Linked DNA regions of Homo sapiens: region 1 is linked to region 2. A link means that fine-mapping ties the variant in region 2 to the expression of a gene that starts in the linked region. Tissue or cell type: thyroid. Region 2 holds a variant in brackets; the other region holds the start of a gene. All regions are shown on one strand. Distances are between the middles of the regions.

Region 1 (8,091 bases), 120 kb after region 2:
TCTGAAATAAACCGATTTGATGGGATGCCCAAGGCCCCTCACAGCACCGGCATTTGGGGGCTTCGATGGCTGACTGCCCTCTGCCACCCGGTGGGCTCTCTGGAAGGGGGTGACTGACCTTCTGCAGCAAGAGAGAGCCTGAGTATTTGGTCACAGTGTTATACAGGTCCCCGCCGAAGGTGTCAGCCCATAGCTTCACTCTGCCAGGCAATGAAAGGACACGCGTATACACACACGTACACGCACAAATACAGAAACACACGCGTAGACATATGGGTTCACACACATAGAAAGCCAGTGTCTACACACAGACACCTGCTGATGCATGCATACTCCAACACACAGACACATAATGCATAAGAAATGCACACACACGTACACACACATACATACCCCCCACACACATGCATATGCATACACACACGTGACATATGCCCAGAAACACACAAAAGAGCACCTGTCCCTCCTCCTTGTCCCTAAAGCTACAGCCATGGCCTGGGCAGGAGACGCGGAGAACCCTCAGGACCCAGCGGCTGCACTGCTGTGTGCTGAATGTCCTCGGCAGGTTCTCCTGCTGAGGGTTGTGGGGCCGGGCTGACGAGCCCAGGACTGAGCTTGACCCCAAGCTTCCAGGGCCTCTGGTTGGAGAGTGGCAGACTGAGAGGAGAGAAGGAGGGGAGAGGCAGTGGACAGCCTCAGGCCAGGGCCGGAGGACCCTGAGGACAAAGGACAACCTGCCTGGCCACAGCTGTGGCCTCTCAATAAATCGTTCCCTCCAGTGCACTCCACTCAAAGCCACTGGGGGCTGCCGAACCCTCTGTTGAAACCTCAGAGAACGCGTGAGGCAAGGGCACAGCAGGAAAAGGCTCTGAGCTGCCACTGCTGAGCCTGAGGGCAGGGCAGGCCAGGAGGGCATAAGGAGGCCACACCTCACCCTCTGTGTAGGCAGCCTAGTGGGGAGCCCCGACCTCTCGCCCATGCCCCAGAAATGCACCACAATCCCACCATCTTGGCCAGGCTGGTGGGGTCCTGGGGGCAGGTACACAGGGCTGGGGCTGAGCCTCTCCAGATGGAGCGGAAGTGGTTTGCCTGTGCGATCCTTTCAAGATCAGCAGTCATCACTCAACCAATGTTTATCAAGGTCCTACCATGTGGCAGCCTGGAGCCACCCCACAGTCCCCACCCTTGCAGGGACAGCTTTGTCATGCGGGTAGCATAGTACATGTTTGAAGGTGCCCATGAAGGTTGGGGAGGGGTAGTGGTATAAGGGAAGGCTTCCCTGGGGAGGGAGATCTGAGCTCCAGGTTAGAAGTTTGGTAGAGGTTAGCCTGCAAAGGGGTCTGGGAGAGGATTCTAGGTCGGGAGTACAGAAGAGCTTGGAGGAGTAAAACGTGACTTCCGGGCTTCCAGTGTGGGTTGTTGACCTGATGGTGTTGTTACTGAATACAATTAAGACTATCAGGAAGGGCAGGGGGAATGAGCTGAGGAGGGTGAAAAGTGATGTGTGTACCTTGGGCTCTGCTGAATGTGAGGTTCCCGTTGTAGAGCTACCAAGTACCATTGGGAAGGTTGTGCACTGCACAACTCTAGAAGGCACCAATTGTGTTTTACCTTGAAAGACACAAATCTGAATTTAAAACCTCACATGATGTTTAGGAAAAGCTGCCCATAAGCACTGGGTATGTGTCTAGTAGGTAGAGACAGGGCTGGGAGTCATTGATGCAAAGGTAGGGATTGAAATTCTGAGGGCAGGAGGGCTCTCTCAAGGAGAGTGTGCAGCGTGAGATCTCTGAGCGTCGACAGCTGCTGGGGAGCACCCCCCACCTCCGGGGCAGGCAGAGGAGGAGGAGCACTTGAGGACAGCAGAGATAAGCCGTGCCCATGCAGGCCCAGCGGAGCGCAGTGCCACGGAAGTCAAGGACTGGGATAAAAGAAGACGGGGGCTTGTGTGTCCCAAGCAACAGGGTCTGGGGTGACAAGGCCAGGAATGTCTCCTGGATTGGGCATGAGGAGGGCTTTGGGAACCCTGTGGAAACAGACTTGGGAGGAGGTGGAAGCCCGGCTGGAGGGAAAGACTGAGAAGAGAGGTTCGGCGGGAGTGAGGACAGGTGGGGCCAAGTCCTGGGCAGGCAGATGAGGCTGTGTGCAGGCTGTTGTCTCTGGCAGCACCCAGGGCTTCTGCATAGATGGCCGCTGGGGCCCCCCTCCCTGAAGGCCTGGATTCCAGCCACCCCGACTTGGCCCTCAGCCCACTCCTGGAGTTGGCCCTCTCCTATCAGCTGGTGTGTGTTCTGGGGATGAAAATTGTTCTGAACATCTCCTGCAGCAACAGATAGCGTTACGGGCTGGCGGCGGGTGTAATGGTGAAAGTGCAGTCCAGGCTGACAGGAGTTCAAATCCCAGCACCTTCACTTCCTGGCCTTGTGAACTTGGGGAAGTCACCTGACCTCTCGGGGCCTCTGTTTCCTCAGCTGCAAAATAGGGATAAAAATAAGCCCCCACTGAATGGCTCTGCAAACTAACGGTGTCATTTGTGAAGCGCCCAGCTCCGTGCCAGGCAGGGAACAAGGAGAGCTATGCGGCTCGATGGGAAACGATGCTGCCTAATCCACTGGTCAGCAAAGGCTAAGCACAGGCACGGTGTGTCATTTAGGCTCCCTGTCCCCACTCCTGCTAAGACATGCAGTTGGCAGGTGGCTCTGTTGGTGGCCTGGCTATGGTGCTGGGCTCAAGCGGCTGGAGTAAACAGGATGGGGTCTGTAGCACCTACAGTCTAGAAGGCTCTGCTACCCACATGTATTGGAAATTTCCTTCCTAGGACCACCTGAGCTAGGGCCTAAAACACAGACACCCCAGAGAGGTTGCACAGTAATTTACATGTACACCAAGGTGCACATGACTGATACCGGGTTCTTTCCTGGAGCCGGTCTTAATGGCCGGCTAGAGAATCAAGGTTGGAAGGAGGCAGAAAGGTGTAGAAAGGGAAGACTGCGGCCACCAAAATCCATTTTTTTCCCCAGTTCCTGGACAAGCCACCTCCTGTGCGCATGAGACGTTCTGTGGGTTCAGAACTGCTTCCCCTTTTTGGAATGTCAAAATACGCATTTCCTGCCAAATGCTTCGGGGAGCTGCGATGCTGAGATAACCCGGCTCCTCCAGGCTGCCTCATCTCAGCGATTATCCTGAAGGAGCACCCGCCCTTCAGGTGTCCCAGAAGCTGCTTGTCAGGCCAGGAAGACAGCAGCCCTGATGATCAGTTCTTCCTAAAGCCATCCGGCTCCTGGGGAGAGGCAGGTGGGACTCCAGAACTCACAGAGCTTTTGGGAGGAGAAAGAGGAGGCCGGAGAAGCAAAGGGCTTTACAGCAAGAGAGTGGTCAGTCGCAGCCACTGGGGAAAAGCCCAGAGGGAGGGCAGGGGCGGGAGGAGTGGGCAGAGGATGGAGGCCCAGCCCGGGAAGAAAGTGGGAAAGGGTGACCGGGTTTTTGGGGTGGGGTTGAACGTGATGCTTACGTTTCCAGAGGAATCTTGGCCTGTCCCCACGCAGGGGACAGGGAGGTGCCTAGAAGCAGCAGCCACAGGAGGGCCGAGGTCTTCTGCACAAAGGCCCAGGCCACGGGCATTGGCTGGAGGGGAATCCAGCGGCTGCTGGAGCTGGGGTTTGCGAGGAAGTTGGGAGTTGCAGGCATGGTGGGCCTGGGGTTGGGGAGGGGAAGGAGGGCAGAGCAGCCACAGACCATGAGCTCTGTCTGCCTTCCTCCCAGACCCCAGGACGCCCCAGGCCTTTGTCTTCCGTGCCTTGGCGAGCCTGGGGTCTCCAGCCTCTCAGTCCTGGGTGGGGAGGGCTTCTCTCTGCCCCACAGCTGCAGCTCACAGAAGAGTCGCCCCACCTAGCAAGCAGGCCTCGGAGACAGGGACTGGGGGAGAGGCTGTGGCAACATGAAACCCTTTAATCCGCTGGCCTCTCCTCTAATCCTCTCCTGACAGCAGGGAGGGGGTGGCAGGGGGTGGGGAGCTGCCTCCCAAGATTACCACAACTGCAGCTGGTTCCCTCAGGGCTATAGTGCACCCCTCTGCTTTAAAGAGGCAGCCCCGTTCCTGTGGAACCACCTTCTGGACCCAGGAAGGGCTTGCTGTGACTATGGCCAGAGGACAGCAGCTGAGTTTGCACAGTACTCTGATTGACCCACAAATCTCTTGTTGACCCTGAGGTGGGGGTGTGTCCTCATCCCTGCTTGGCAGAGGCTCTTGAGGCCCGGGGAGTCCCAGGGGCAGAGCTGGGACTCTGGCTGGTGTTTCCAGGCCTGGTGCCTTTGGGACAGGTCATAGGTCATAGGTGAAGTCAGTGGACCCACGCCTCCACATCTCAGCTGCTCGTGGGCGGGGCTGGGGACGCATTTGCTGTGCAACTGATGAAGCTTCAGGACCCCTGAATCCACAGACTCCCCCCTTTCCCGGAGAGGCCCTAGCAATGTGTTCCTGTGGCCAAATGTTTTTGTAAAATATGCAAAAGTTGAGATAGTTTAACCATAACCGGTTGAGACTGTCTGTCTCTTTCCATCCCAACTTCTCTTCCGTCTGAGGGACTCTTAGTTGGATGATGTTTGGGTGGCTGAGGGCACTTGGGGGATCCAGTTAAGAGGAAAGTGAGCTGGGGAAACACTTAATCTGGGCTTAGTGGGATATGCTGACATGGTTCACAGTGACTTCTTTGTACAGAGAAGTTACCTCCAGCTGAGTGTAGGCAGGGCTTCCAGGAACACTCATCCCACAGGACATCCCACCAGCAGATGCAGCAAGAGAGGCTGGGCCGTGATGTGAGCGCACGCTGTCACACCCACCCTGGCCATGTGTGGTGGGGAGGGCAAAGTAACAGTCAGGAGCTCATCTGCAGAAAATCTACAAAAAGCCACACAGGTAACATCGTTGGTGGAGGATTTGGTTCTCACCAAGGCCTGGCCAGGACAGAAGTTCTCTCCTGTTAGGAAAATAGTGGATATTGAAAGAATATAATTACACCGTACATTGCTTTGTGTTCTGATGAGAGTTACACAAATTAGAATTGATCAAAATTCTTGTGTTGTGAGCCCAAACCAGTAGTAGTACCACATGGGTTCTCCGGGGGTGAAGTCATAGATTTTATGCAGTCCCCGTATCAGATTATTTTCTTAGTGTAACTGGTGCACTGTGTCTTCACAAAATCTGGTGGTTCCAGCAAAATGGTAAGCAAAATTGCCACCAACGCAGAGAAATGCTTGCAGAAGCAAGTGTTCTGATGACAAAACTCCTACACAGATTCATCAATAAGTCAGTGCTGTAGTATCAGAGTAATCTGGTGGCACAGTTTTGTGGCTGAATACAATGTATTTTTTAAAGGCATCTAAATGATTCCTATGAATGCCTTAATTTCACATAAATTTTGTACATGTTTTGAGGATTACAAATCAAACACATTTAGAAAAAATACTACAGAGGCACACTGGGCAGTCAATACATAAAAAGAATGTAACTTCTCTAGGTTTTGTGAATTTGGTGGAATTCACCAGCTTCTTAAAATTTGTAATTTGGAATGATTTTTAAAACTGAATAAATATTCACCTTTTTTCAACTTTTTTATTGTGGCCCAATATTTATTGTGGCATAAAATGTGCCATCTTAATCATCTTTTTAAGTGTACGGTTTAGTGTAATTAAATACATTAATCATGTTGCTCCACCTTCGCCGCCATCTATCTCTATAATTCGTTCATCTTGTAAAACTGAAACTCTGAACCCATTAAACACTAGCTCCCGTTCCCTCCTCCCCCAGCCGCTGGCGGCCACCACTCTCCTTTCTGTATCTCTGATGTTGACGGTTCTAGGGACCTCACAGAAGGGAAGTCATCACATAGTTGTCCTTCCATGACTGGCTCATTTCACTTAGCACAATGTCGGTAAGGTTCACCCACGGTGCCGCGTGTGTCAGAATTTCCTTACTTTTTGGGGGTGACCAATGATGGGTTAATATTTCATTGTGTGGATAGACCTCATTTTGTGCATCCGTTCCTCTATCGATGGACCCTGGGGTGGTGTCCTCCTTTTGGCTACTGTGAAATATGCTGCCGTCAACACGGGTGTGCAAATATCTCTCGAGATCCTGCTTTCGATAATAAATATTCACTTTTATTTTTATGTTTGTACCTGGGATTTGCATTATTTTTCTTTTATGGGTAACCACTCCCACATTATACAAGCTCCCACTGCCCCCACGGGGTTCCAGCACCCTGTCCGGAAAGCCTTCGCCTCCCTCTACTGTGTCAAGCGTGACAGCGGCTTGGAAAGCTCCGTCCTTCGCAGACACACTGGCGGCCTGTGTCCTGTGCGCCCCTTAGACATACTTAGGAAGCCTCAAAACCAGGCCTTCTCAGCCCAAGGCCACCGCCGGCCTCCAGGCGGCTGCCTCTGCCCACTTCCCCTTCAGGCTCCAGCGACGGCTTCCTTCCCTGACTGGTGGAGGAGGGGGTACAGCTGGGCTGCATCCTGCGTCCCCTACATCCACCCCTTTCCAAGGAGTCCTTTGGAAACCAGCTTTCCCACCTGTTTCCTGCGGGCCCCTGTCTGGTACCGGGCCTCCCCACCCTGCCTCTCATCATCTATTCTTAATGCAGCAACCGAAGGCTCTTTTCAAACGTAAGTCAGACCCTGTGGCTCCCTCCCTCTGCTCCGAAGCCCCCAGGGCTGCCCATCTCCCTTAGAGGAAAAGCCACAGTTTTGACCACAGCCACGAGGCCCTACCTGGCTGGAGCTGGCTTGATTTTAAAAATCATTCCAAATTACAAATTTTAAGAAGCTGATGAATGCCACCAAATTCACAGCCACGAGGCCCCACCTGGCTGGAGCTGGCTTGATTTTAAAAATCATTCCAAATTACAAATTTTAAGAAGCTGATGAATGCCACCAAATTCACAGCCACGAGGCCCCACCTGGCTGGAGCTGGCTTGATTTTAAAAATCATTCCAAATTACAAATTTTAAGAAGCTGATGAATGCCACCAAATTCACAGCCACGAGGCCCCACCTGGCTGGAGCTGGCTTGATTTTAAAAATCATTCCAAATTACAAATTTTAAGAAGCTGATGAATGCCACCAAATTCACAGCCACGAGGCCCCACCTGGCTGGAGCTGGCTTGATTTTAAAAATCATTCCAAATTACAAATTTTAAGAAGCTGATGAATGCCACCAAATTCACAGCCACGAGGCCCCACCTGGCTGGAGCTGGCTTGATTTTAAAAATCATTCCAAATTACAAATTTTAAGAAGCTGATGAATGCCACCAAATTCACAGCCACGAGGCCCCACCTGGCTGGAGCTGGCTTCTCCTGACCGCGCCTCTCTGGGCGCGGGCTCCCGCTGCTCCTTGGGTGCCTCAGGCGCGCCCCCCATCGGTGCGGCTGACCCCCGAGCTTGCAGTCCGCGCCGCGGCTGTGTCTGCCTGCTTCCCCCTGCGTGGCCGGCCCTCTCATTTCCATCAGTGTCTGGCGTCGGGTTTCCTGCAGGAAGAGCTGGTACCCCTGGATCGGGCAGCTTGAGACGAGTTTAACAGAGAGGCTATTTACAGAGGTGTGGACGGAGTCCTGCAGGGACACTGCAGTGGCCAGGGCTGGAAACCGCGGGAGCTAGCCCCTAAGCCTCGGGGAGGGGGACGGGGACGGGGACGGGAAAGCCACTGTACCCTGGAGAGAACAGGCTGTATGGGGGGGACTGTGGCCGCCAGGCAAGGGATGCGGCCAGCCACAGCAGTCCCGTGGGAGGGCTGGGGCCGTGGACACCCACTCACCCTCTGCCTCCCCCGCTCTCCTGCTGGTGCCTCCACCCGGGGAACCTTAGGGACTTATCCGCGTGCCCTCGCTCCCCCCCCAGGACAGCCCCCCAGGGCAGGGAGAGCACTCGGAGGGGCCAGCAGGAGGCGTCCGGCTCAAGGTCTTCAACGCCACCTTTTATGATGAAAGTGTCCTTGAATGAGAGAGTGGTGGGCAGTGACGCACGGCTTTGTGAATAGCCTGTCAAGCACCGAGCTGCAAACTTTAACATGGAGAATTTTACGGCATGTGAATT
Region 2 (8,101 bases):
AGTGGCTGCGAGGTCATCCTCTCAGAATGTCCTCAACTCTGGGAGCATCTCTGATGGGGGTTTCTGGTCCCAGCAGACCAGACTGTATGAAGCACCCGGCTCAGGGCCTGACACCTGGGTCTGGGTTCTGGATCCGTACCAGCCACTATGACTATTATCCACGTGACGGCCCCCTCACATTGCTCGATCATTCGGAACTAAGTGTAGCGGGAATGAGGACAAGATGGGAAAACTGCATTCTAATTCACCTAGGGCCCAAGCCCTAGGAAGCGTGGCTCTTCGTTAAAGCACCTTGGGATCCTGGTTGACTTCGTATTTTAATGACACAGGGGCTCTGCTGTGCTTTCACACCAGCACTTCAACAAATGTGAAGGGTTTTTCCCACCCCACTCTCTGGACACCAACTGGGTGTCTGTCCTGAAACTCAATTCAAGTCTGACACTATTGAGAGTTAGCATTAGAGCTCGCAAGTTACAGGGCTCGGTCCCACAAGGTGGCCGTCACTTCAGATGCCAATCGCAAGCCCCAGGTCTCCTGTCCTTCTGACAGACTGGCTGTAAATCTAGGGTTCCCATGAGCCTGTCTCAGGCTCCGTGAGTTGTTAGCGTGGCTCACTCAACTCAGGAAGGTGCTTCCCTCACCATGACCCGTTTATTATAAAGGACGCAGGTCAGGCGGCTGAGTGGAAGAGACACGTAGGCCAAGGCACGGGGTACGCAGAGCTCCCACACCCTTTCACCAATTCGGACACTCTCCAAACACAGTGGCTCGGGGATTTTATGGAGGCCTCATTATGATCATTGATTAAATCTTTGGCCACTGGTGATCAACTCAGTCTCCAGCCCCCTTCCTTTCCCAGAAGCCAGGGGCTTGGAGCCAAAAGTCCCAACCCTCTAATCCTAACTTGGTGTTTCCTGTGGCCAGCTCTCATCCTGTCTAGGGCCCCCAGCCACCAGTCATCTAATTAGCATACAAAGATACCTCTATCATTCCAAGGGTCTTAGAGGCACCTGTGAAGGAACCAGGGACTAAGACCAAACACTATAACAAAAGATGCACCTATCACCCTAATCAGGAAATAACAAGCGTTTTAGGAGCTTGCCAGGAATCAGGACAAAGACTAAATAAAGATCTGTTTCTTATTATATCACAGTGTCACAGGGCATAAACGCGAATGTTTCCCCCGAGAAGCACAGGCACAGGTGTGTTCATTGGCATCCCTATATGCTCCTGTCTGCAGGGGCACAGACCCAGGCACAGAGGGTTTGGGGATGAAAATCCAGCCCACCCTCGATCCGCCTCAACCCGCACCTCTGGATGGAAGGCGTGGCAGGAGTCTGGTCGCCGGCGGAGCTTCTGGGAGCGCATCCGGTCACATTTGACAGAGGCATTATGTGCAGAAGCCACTGTTAAGGTCAATATCTCAGGACCGGAGCCCATTCTGCAGACTGGAAAAAGGTCTGGAAGAACCTGCTCTGGTGCCACCAGTTGCCCTGCAAGCAGCTTTAGGGTCAGGAGGCAGCACCGGGGCCCAGGGAAGGGTTAGAGAACAAATAACGGAGCCCTGTGGAGGACACGGGCGGTGAAGGAGGCTGGCCCCGCTGCTCAAAATCTGAGCCCTACAGACACCTCCTACAGCCCCCGCCCCCACCGCACACATCCCCGAGCATTGCAGGATATATTTGACTTCTGTCGCCTCCTGCAGCACTGGTGGGAAGATGCTGCAGTCACAGGTGGGGTCTGTCACCAGGAGGAGGAGGTTACTGTTGGGAATCTGCTGCACCACAAATACCCTGCAGCAAAGAAAGGGAGTCGAGGATGGCTCCGTGGCGACCACGAGAAGGGCTTCTAGGGAAGGAACTTCTGGAGACTTTAGTGTGGAGTTAGGGTGGCAGGGAAGCCCGGAACCATGAGGCAGGGCGGGTCGGGGCAGCTAAGGGAACGGGCCTGGCAGATGGCTCAGTCCTACTGGCTTTGCTCACAAGCCTTTGCTGCTGCATTTCCTTTCCTAGCAGACTGGAGACAGTGAGGAAGTCCAAACTGGGCCGCTTTGGAGAGTGCAGAGTTGCTATTAATATATGCAGGGACGACAGGCGTAAATCAAGACCGTCCGGAGCAAATGGGCGGGCGAGGCAACACTTGCTCTGGGTGAGGGTGGCGGGGGCAGGCCCGGGCGAAGCGGCAGCGCTGGAGCTTGGCCACCAGGTGGCGCAGTGGCCCCGCGCTCGGCGAGGCCGCCCTGCGAGGAGTGGCGCGGAGTGGGGCGGAGCCCGCCCGCCAGGCCCACGGCCTTCCCAGCAGTCCCAGCGGCCGCCTACCGAGCGCCTCCCCTGGGATGGGCGGTCTCACACACCCAACGTGCACACCACAGCCGTGTATACTCTCAGCCTTCACGGCTCTGTATGAGGCTGGTGTTGTGCCCATTTTGCAGATGAGAGAATGGAGACTAGAGGAGGCGAAGTCACTTGCCCACGGTCATAAGCGGGGGAGCGCAGAGCCAGTTTTCAATTCAGGAGTGTCTACTCTGAAGCCCTCGCTTCACTCCGGAGCCCGCTGGCTCTATCCTCGCACCGAGCCTTTGCGACAAGTGCACAGGGAACGCTAACCCCAGCCCTCAACGCTGCACAGAACCCGGGGTGAAACCCGCGCAGCACGACGCGCAGGGAGTGGGGGAGAAGGGAGCCCCGATGCCAGCGCCGCAGGTGCCGCACTGTTAAATGGTGTGCCACGGGCCCGGGGGTCTAGGGACCGCCTGGCGAGCGGCACGTCTGGCTGAGGCGACCCTCGAGGAGGCCGCCGCATTCCCAGCGTGGGGGTCCTCCCGGGCTTGGGTGCGGGGGGTCAGCAGGAGAGACCCTTCCGCGCGGCCTCCCTGCCTCCCCGGGGCCAGGGCGGGTTATAACTAGCGGCTTCCACACAGCAGGAAGCCTGACAGAGGCTGCCCGCGGGGCTCCCAGCGACCCGAGGACATCGCACACTTCCGGCCTTCTCTTCTCACACTCCCTCTGCCTTCCAAGTTCTCCCCACGCAGCTCAGGCGCGGGCACTGGCACCGCCCTGGGCACCGCCTGAGCAGGGCTGGGGGAGACCCGCCGAAGGGCCCACTCGCCCAGAGACGCCGTGGGGTCACGGCTGCGGCCTCGGCGGGGTGGGCTCGACACACAGGGTCAGGCCTCGGGACCACCTCTCCCCATCCCGGCTGTCCCGGTCCCCAGCCGTCCTGCCCGCCTCAGACCGTCCGCCTCCTGCGTGTCTCCTCCACTGAGGACGGCGGGGGAAGACCCCGGGAGCGTGGGCTCTGCACTTAGACGCATCCCCTCCTCCCGGCTGTGGAGCCGTTTCCCGGGGGTTCCGGGGCCCTGCCCGCACTTCCGCCTTGCCGAGGGCGGGAGGAGTGTGGCGGGACGGGCGGCGCCGCCCTGCGGTCTTACTTCTGGCAGGGCCCGCACTCCACGATCCCGTTGGCCTCCCGGATGGCCGGCTGGTACACGAACACGGGGTACTCCGTGTCGCAGGGCTGCAGCGGGTCCTGCTTCTTGTGTTTGTGGGCTGCGGGCGGAGAAAGGACATCACGCCACCGAAGGGGCCTCTGGCCTGCGGTGACCTCGCCT[C/T]GGCACTCCCAGGGCCAGAGTTCACCCCAGTGCATTTGCAGAGGGTCCCTCCTCAGGCAGTTCTCAGGACACGCGTGGGAGGAGCCGGGCGGGGGGTGAGGGGAGGGAAGACACCCGGAGTCTCTGGAGAGGGTGGCTTGGCACGGGGAGCGCCGCAGGGGCCCTGAGCCTCGGTGGAGGGAAAGCGCTTCCTCTGGGGAGCCTGGCCCTCACTGAGCTGGGGGCAGTGCACCATCTCCAGGGCCCCTTCCAGCACTCAGATCCCGGGGGAGGGTCTGAGCGGGGAGCAGAGGCAGTAGGGGCACCAAGGGGTGGCTTGGGGGTACTTAGGCCCACCACCCCTCCCTTCACTGTGGACAGACGCAGTGCAGTTCCTGGGCAATCCTGCCCTGCTCTCCCGCACAGCCAGGCCCACACTCCACCCATTGAGCCTGAGCGCCTGCGGTGGGGGCAGCCGGGCAGGTGGGCTCCAGGCCTGGGGCTGCGGAAGCCCAGAAGCCACAGCCACCCGGTGCGGGACTCCTCGGGGGCTGCGCGATTTGCCTTAGCTCCCTGGGACAAGGACAGTGGACTCAACCAAAGGTGGAGGCGAGTGCCTCAGCCCCGCTCTGCAGGACCCGAGTCCGTTCCCTCCCGGAGCCTCCTGAGGTGGGCACATGGCAGAGCAGGGCCCTGCCACACAGGCTGTCTGCATGGCCCTTCTGTTCTCAGGGCCTGGCTGTGGCCCCCAGGGATAGACCTAGAGGCAGGGAGCACAGGTGTGAGCTACCTTCCCAGGCTCATGCAGAGTCCTACAGGAGAGCATGGGTCTCCCCAGCTTCCAAATCCAGAAGCTCCCAGCCAGAGCTGGAAACCCAGAGGGGACACTAGCTGGCGTGCAGAAAACTCTCACCGAGAGGAGCAAGCCCACAGCGGCCAGGGCTGTGAGTTTTGTCCCCAGGGCTGGGCACAGAAGCCTGCCTGACAATGGCAGGGTTGAGTGGCGTCCCCAGGGTCACGCAGTGGAAGGGGCTGCAGCACCTACGCCCCGGCCTGGGACTCCAAGTCCAGTGCGCCTTCACTGGGGACACTGACATCTGTGTAGGCCAGACCAGGGGGAGGAGCTCCAGGGGACAGGTACCCCAGAGAAGAGAAATTCTGAGCAGGCAGATTGAGGGGGATCATCTTCAACTTTTGCAAGATGCAGCTGCTGACAGAGACAGAGGGGACAGTGTCCTGTCACTGACACCTAGTGACTGTGAACACCCCAGAGCAGCCCCACCCGATCGCGGATGTGAGTCCAGAAGGAGTCTGGAGACACAGCCCGAACTGCCCTGAGCCCAGGGGCAGAGGAAGCCCCAAGCCAAGGCCAGCAGAAGAGAACGAAGAGCAAGCCAGAGAGAGGACCACAGTGGAGATGAAGAGATGGGATAAGCTGGGGACAGCCCAGGTGGTGGGAAGTTCTGGAACCCCATGGCAAAGGTTCTAGGAACACGGAGGAACTGAGCAGAGCCCGCTGAGGCAAGATGGCCTCCTGCAGTCATGGAGGGCCCAGGCGCCCGGGCAGTGAGTGCTTTGAAAGGCCAGGCTCATTGCCGCCCTGCACGTGTGGCCACAGCCACCGGGCTTTGTGTTGGGGCCTCTCATGGTTGCTGCCTCTGGGGGACTCTGTCCTCAGACACAGGGTCCCGCAGGGGAATCATCCTGAGAGCTTCCTGGGGCCCCTGGAACCCGGAGTCCCGCTGAGGGCTGGGGTGCCGCTGTTTGCTTCTCCAAGGGGTGGGCTGGAGGTTGCTCACTCATACTGGCTCATGGCCACCCGGCCACACCACCGGCTTCCTCTTGGAATCTTACGTGTTCTCACCCAAGGGGAGGCTGGAGTTTCTCATTTTCCCTGGGGCCTGACCGTCCTCATGTGGGATGAGAACTGGGCTAGACTCCCCAGTCCCCCAACCCCCAGGAATGGTACTTTAAACCAGGAGAGCTCAGCCCTGCTTGGGGTCATTCCTGGGACAGGTCATGGAGGGTGGGTTCTTTGTAGCTCCTGCTGCGTCCCCAACCCACCGCCAGCAGGGATGGCCTCAGCTGGGCTACTTACAGTGATGGAAGACACTTTTGGCTGGCCGGAACATAAGCCCAGCACAGGGTGGACACGGCACAGGAAAACATGGTGGCACATGAGGGCAGGATGTCATGGGGTGGTGATGATGGCACATGGAGTGGCGGTGTCCCAAGATGATGTCACACACAGAGCCAGGAGTGAGGGATGTGATGAGAGAAGGCCACGCAGGGTGAGATGTGAACAACGATGCTTCAGGGTCACCTATCCCCACTGTCACCCACCCCACAGGGAATGGTCTCACGTTAGTGGACCAAAATGCCACTGCTCTTCAGCACATGGCCCTGCAGCTCCGTGCACTCACCCTCGGCCCCTCTGTCGTACCAGGAGCCCCAGACACTCCACTCCAGCAGGAACCTGTCAGACACAGGACTGAATCTCGGAGACCTCTGAGCCCTCCCGACTTGGGTTCCCAAGGAGCTGGAGTATCCCTGACAGCCCCCGGCCCATCCCCTCTCCTCCAGGACACCCTCTTCCCTGCTTGAGGGCTCTGGTTGAGCAATGAGGTCCCTCCCAGGGGCAGCATGCAGGGAAGAGGTGGCGTCCATGCCCAGGGATTGTGCCCTCCTTCCCCGGGGTCTGGTAGCAAGTGGGTTGTCCTGGAGACCTTGCAGCCTCCTGCTCAAGGACACCCTCCTAAGCCACCCTCGCATGCAGCCCTCCACCAGCCCCGTGTCTACCCCCACTCACAGCACCAGCTCCTGCAGCAGCCACCTGGTCGCCGTCAAGAAGGCAGAAATTGGCTGGGAAGGAGAGAGTGCACACCGCTCGCACCTAGGTCCAAGGGTGAGGGTGCCCCCCCCCCACCACCAGCACCACCCTCAGAGAGACCAGAGAGTGGGCTGCCCTGCCACTGGGAGCAGGGGCAGCAGAGCACAGGCCAGCAGCCCAGCACCCCCCATCCCCCCACCTCCCACCTGCCCTGCAGAGCTGAGCTAGCTGGGAAATGCCTATTGCAGGTCAGACATCTCGGGTGGGGTTGGACATGCCCCTCCAGGAGACGAGTCAAGCCCTCATCCTGGTGCTGCACTGCTGAGGATCCCTGGTGATCAAGCGGCAGTGTCAGGGGCTGAGGCTGGGGCAGGCTGCTCTCTCTGTCTCCGCCAGAGGCACTGTTGTGTCACAACTACCAGAGCAGTCCCTCTGAAGCCCCAAAGCCAGACCCAGAGGCCTGCCTGGGAGTGGGACTGAGAGCAGTGGCTCTGAGCAGAAGATGGAGATGGTCAAGGTAGGGCCCTGGGGCCAGACACCCAAGGTGGGTGAGAACAGGGACCAGTGACCTCATTCCAGGACAGGGCAGAGGACTGGCTGGCTGGCTGGCAGAGGGAAGGGCTGGGTGACACTCACGCTGACCAGGGGCTGGGCTGCACTGTGGTGGTGACTCGAGGGTTTGCACATGGCCTGATAGTCATACATAGTCACTCTGAAAATCAGAAGCGGGCTGTGATGAGTCCAAAGCCACCCCCACCCCCTGCCCCTGCCTCAGGAGGCTTTACTAGCAGAGCATCCGTTTACCGCAATTCCCAAGGGCGCCTGAGCTAGGACAGCAGATCAGAATACAGCTCATGCTGAAAATTACATTTCTGCACTTGGAATGGTTTAAAGACAATGAAGAGCAAATGGCTTTTGCCCTCGGAGTTGGACGGTTTTCCCTCTAGGGTCTGAGCTGCGGAGCCCCTCCCAGGGATGCCCACATGCCCTTACGCCCTCCCCACATCATGCTGACGCCCTGGCTCCATAAAGGTTGCTTTTGCAGCTCTTTGGGGGCACCCACTGTGGGTTTTGGAGGTCAGGATCCTGAGATCCGCCAGGACCACTTAGCGTCAGCTCTCGGTTTGCTGTGTCTATTTGGACTGGGGAGGAGTGTGCCCCACTTACTGGCTGAACACCCCCATGCTGAGCAGCTGGGTCAGGACAGCACCATCCACCTCCCCCAGAAATCTTCCCGTCTGTGAGAGAGGGACAGCAGAGAGAGAGGGAGGGAGAGAGATGGAGCAGGATGGAGCCTTCCGAGTCCAGCACTATTTATTCAGCTCAGGTCGAGGCTTTTGGTGCCAGTTGGGCTTTCCCTCTGACTGCCTCTCAGCATAATCCAGCTGAACCCTTCCACCCACGCCCCTGTCCGGTCCTGGCTCCCTCCTCACCGTCCAGCCTGGTGCTTCCTCAACTGGAAGGAGTCACCCGCTAGCTGACTATGAGACCAACGTAGAGGCTGCAATGTGATTTTTTTAATGGTACAGAATTCCTTGGAACAATTCTGTGTGAATCACTTGCAGCAAGGTTAAAGAATGTTTTATGAAACTGGATTTGTTTTATATGCTGTGTGTGTGTGTGTGTGTGTGTGTGTGTGTGTGTGTGTGTGTGTTGGGTCAGATATAAAACACGTTTCTGCA

Evidence for each region. PIP is the estimated chance that this variant, and not a neighbour inherited with it, causes the effect.
Region 1: it holds the start of CACNA2D4, and the variant in region 2 is fine-mapped to the expression of CACNA2D4 in thyroid (GTEx, PIP above 0.99). The same link has a PIP of 0.9 or more in whole blood.

Annotation. Positions count from the first base shown.
Region 1 is chr12:1,914,736-1,922,826 of GRCh38, forward strand. It overlaps CACNA2D4 (calcium voltage-gated channel auxiliary subunit alpha2delta 4), which reads right to left and starts at 3,917. Exons shown (of 38, transcript NM_172364.5): 1 at 3,512-3,917; 2 at 119-200. The coding sequence starts at 3,738. RefSeq lists an enhancer at 1,990-2,566.
Region 2 is chr12:1,793,988-1,802,088 of GRCh38, forward strand. CACNA2D4 (calcium voltage-gated channel auxiliary subunit alpha2delta 4) reads right to left here. Exons shown (of 38, transcript NM_172364.5): 30 at 7,587-7,657; 31 at 7,056-7,131; 32 at 6,399-6,451; 33 at 6,013-6,065; 34 at 5,688-5,708; 35 at 3,431-3,548; 36 at 1,681-1,793; 37 at 1,312-1,394. It overlaps LOC105369602 (a long non-coding RNA gene), which reads left to right and starts at 6,452. Exons shown (of 4, transcript XR_931549.3): 1 at 6,452-6,936. RefSeq lists enhancers at 1,560-2,127, 2,239-3,144, 3,145-4,049 and silencers at 2,088-2,417, 2,758-2,887, 2,988-3,217. The variant C/T (reference allele first, on the strand shown) is at 3,611.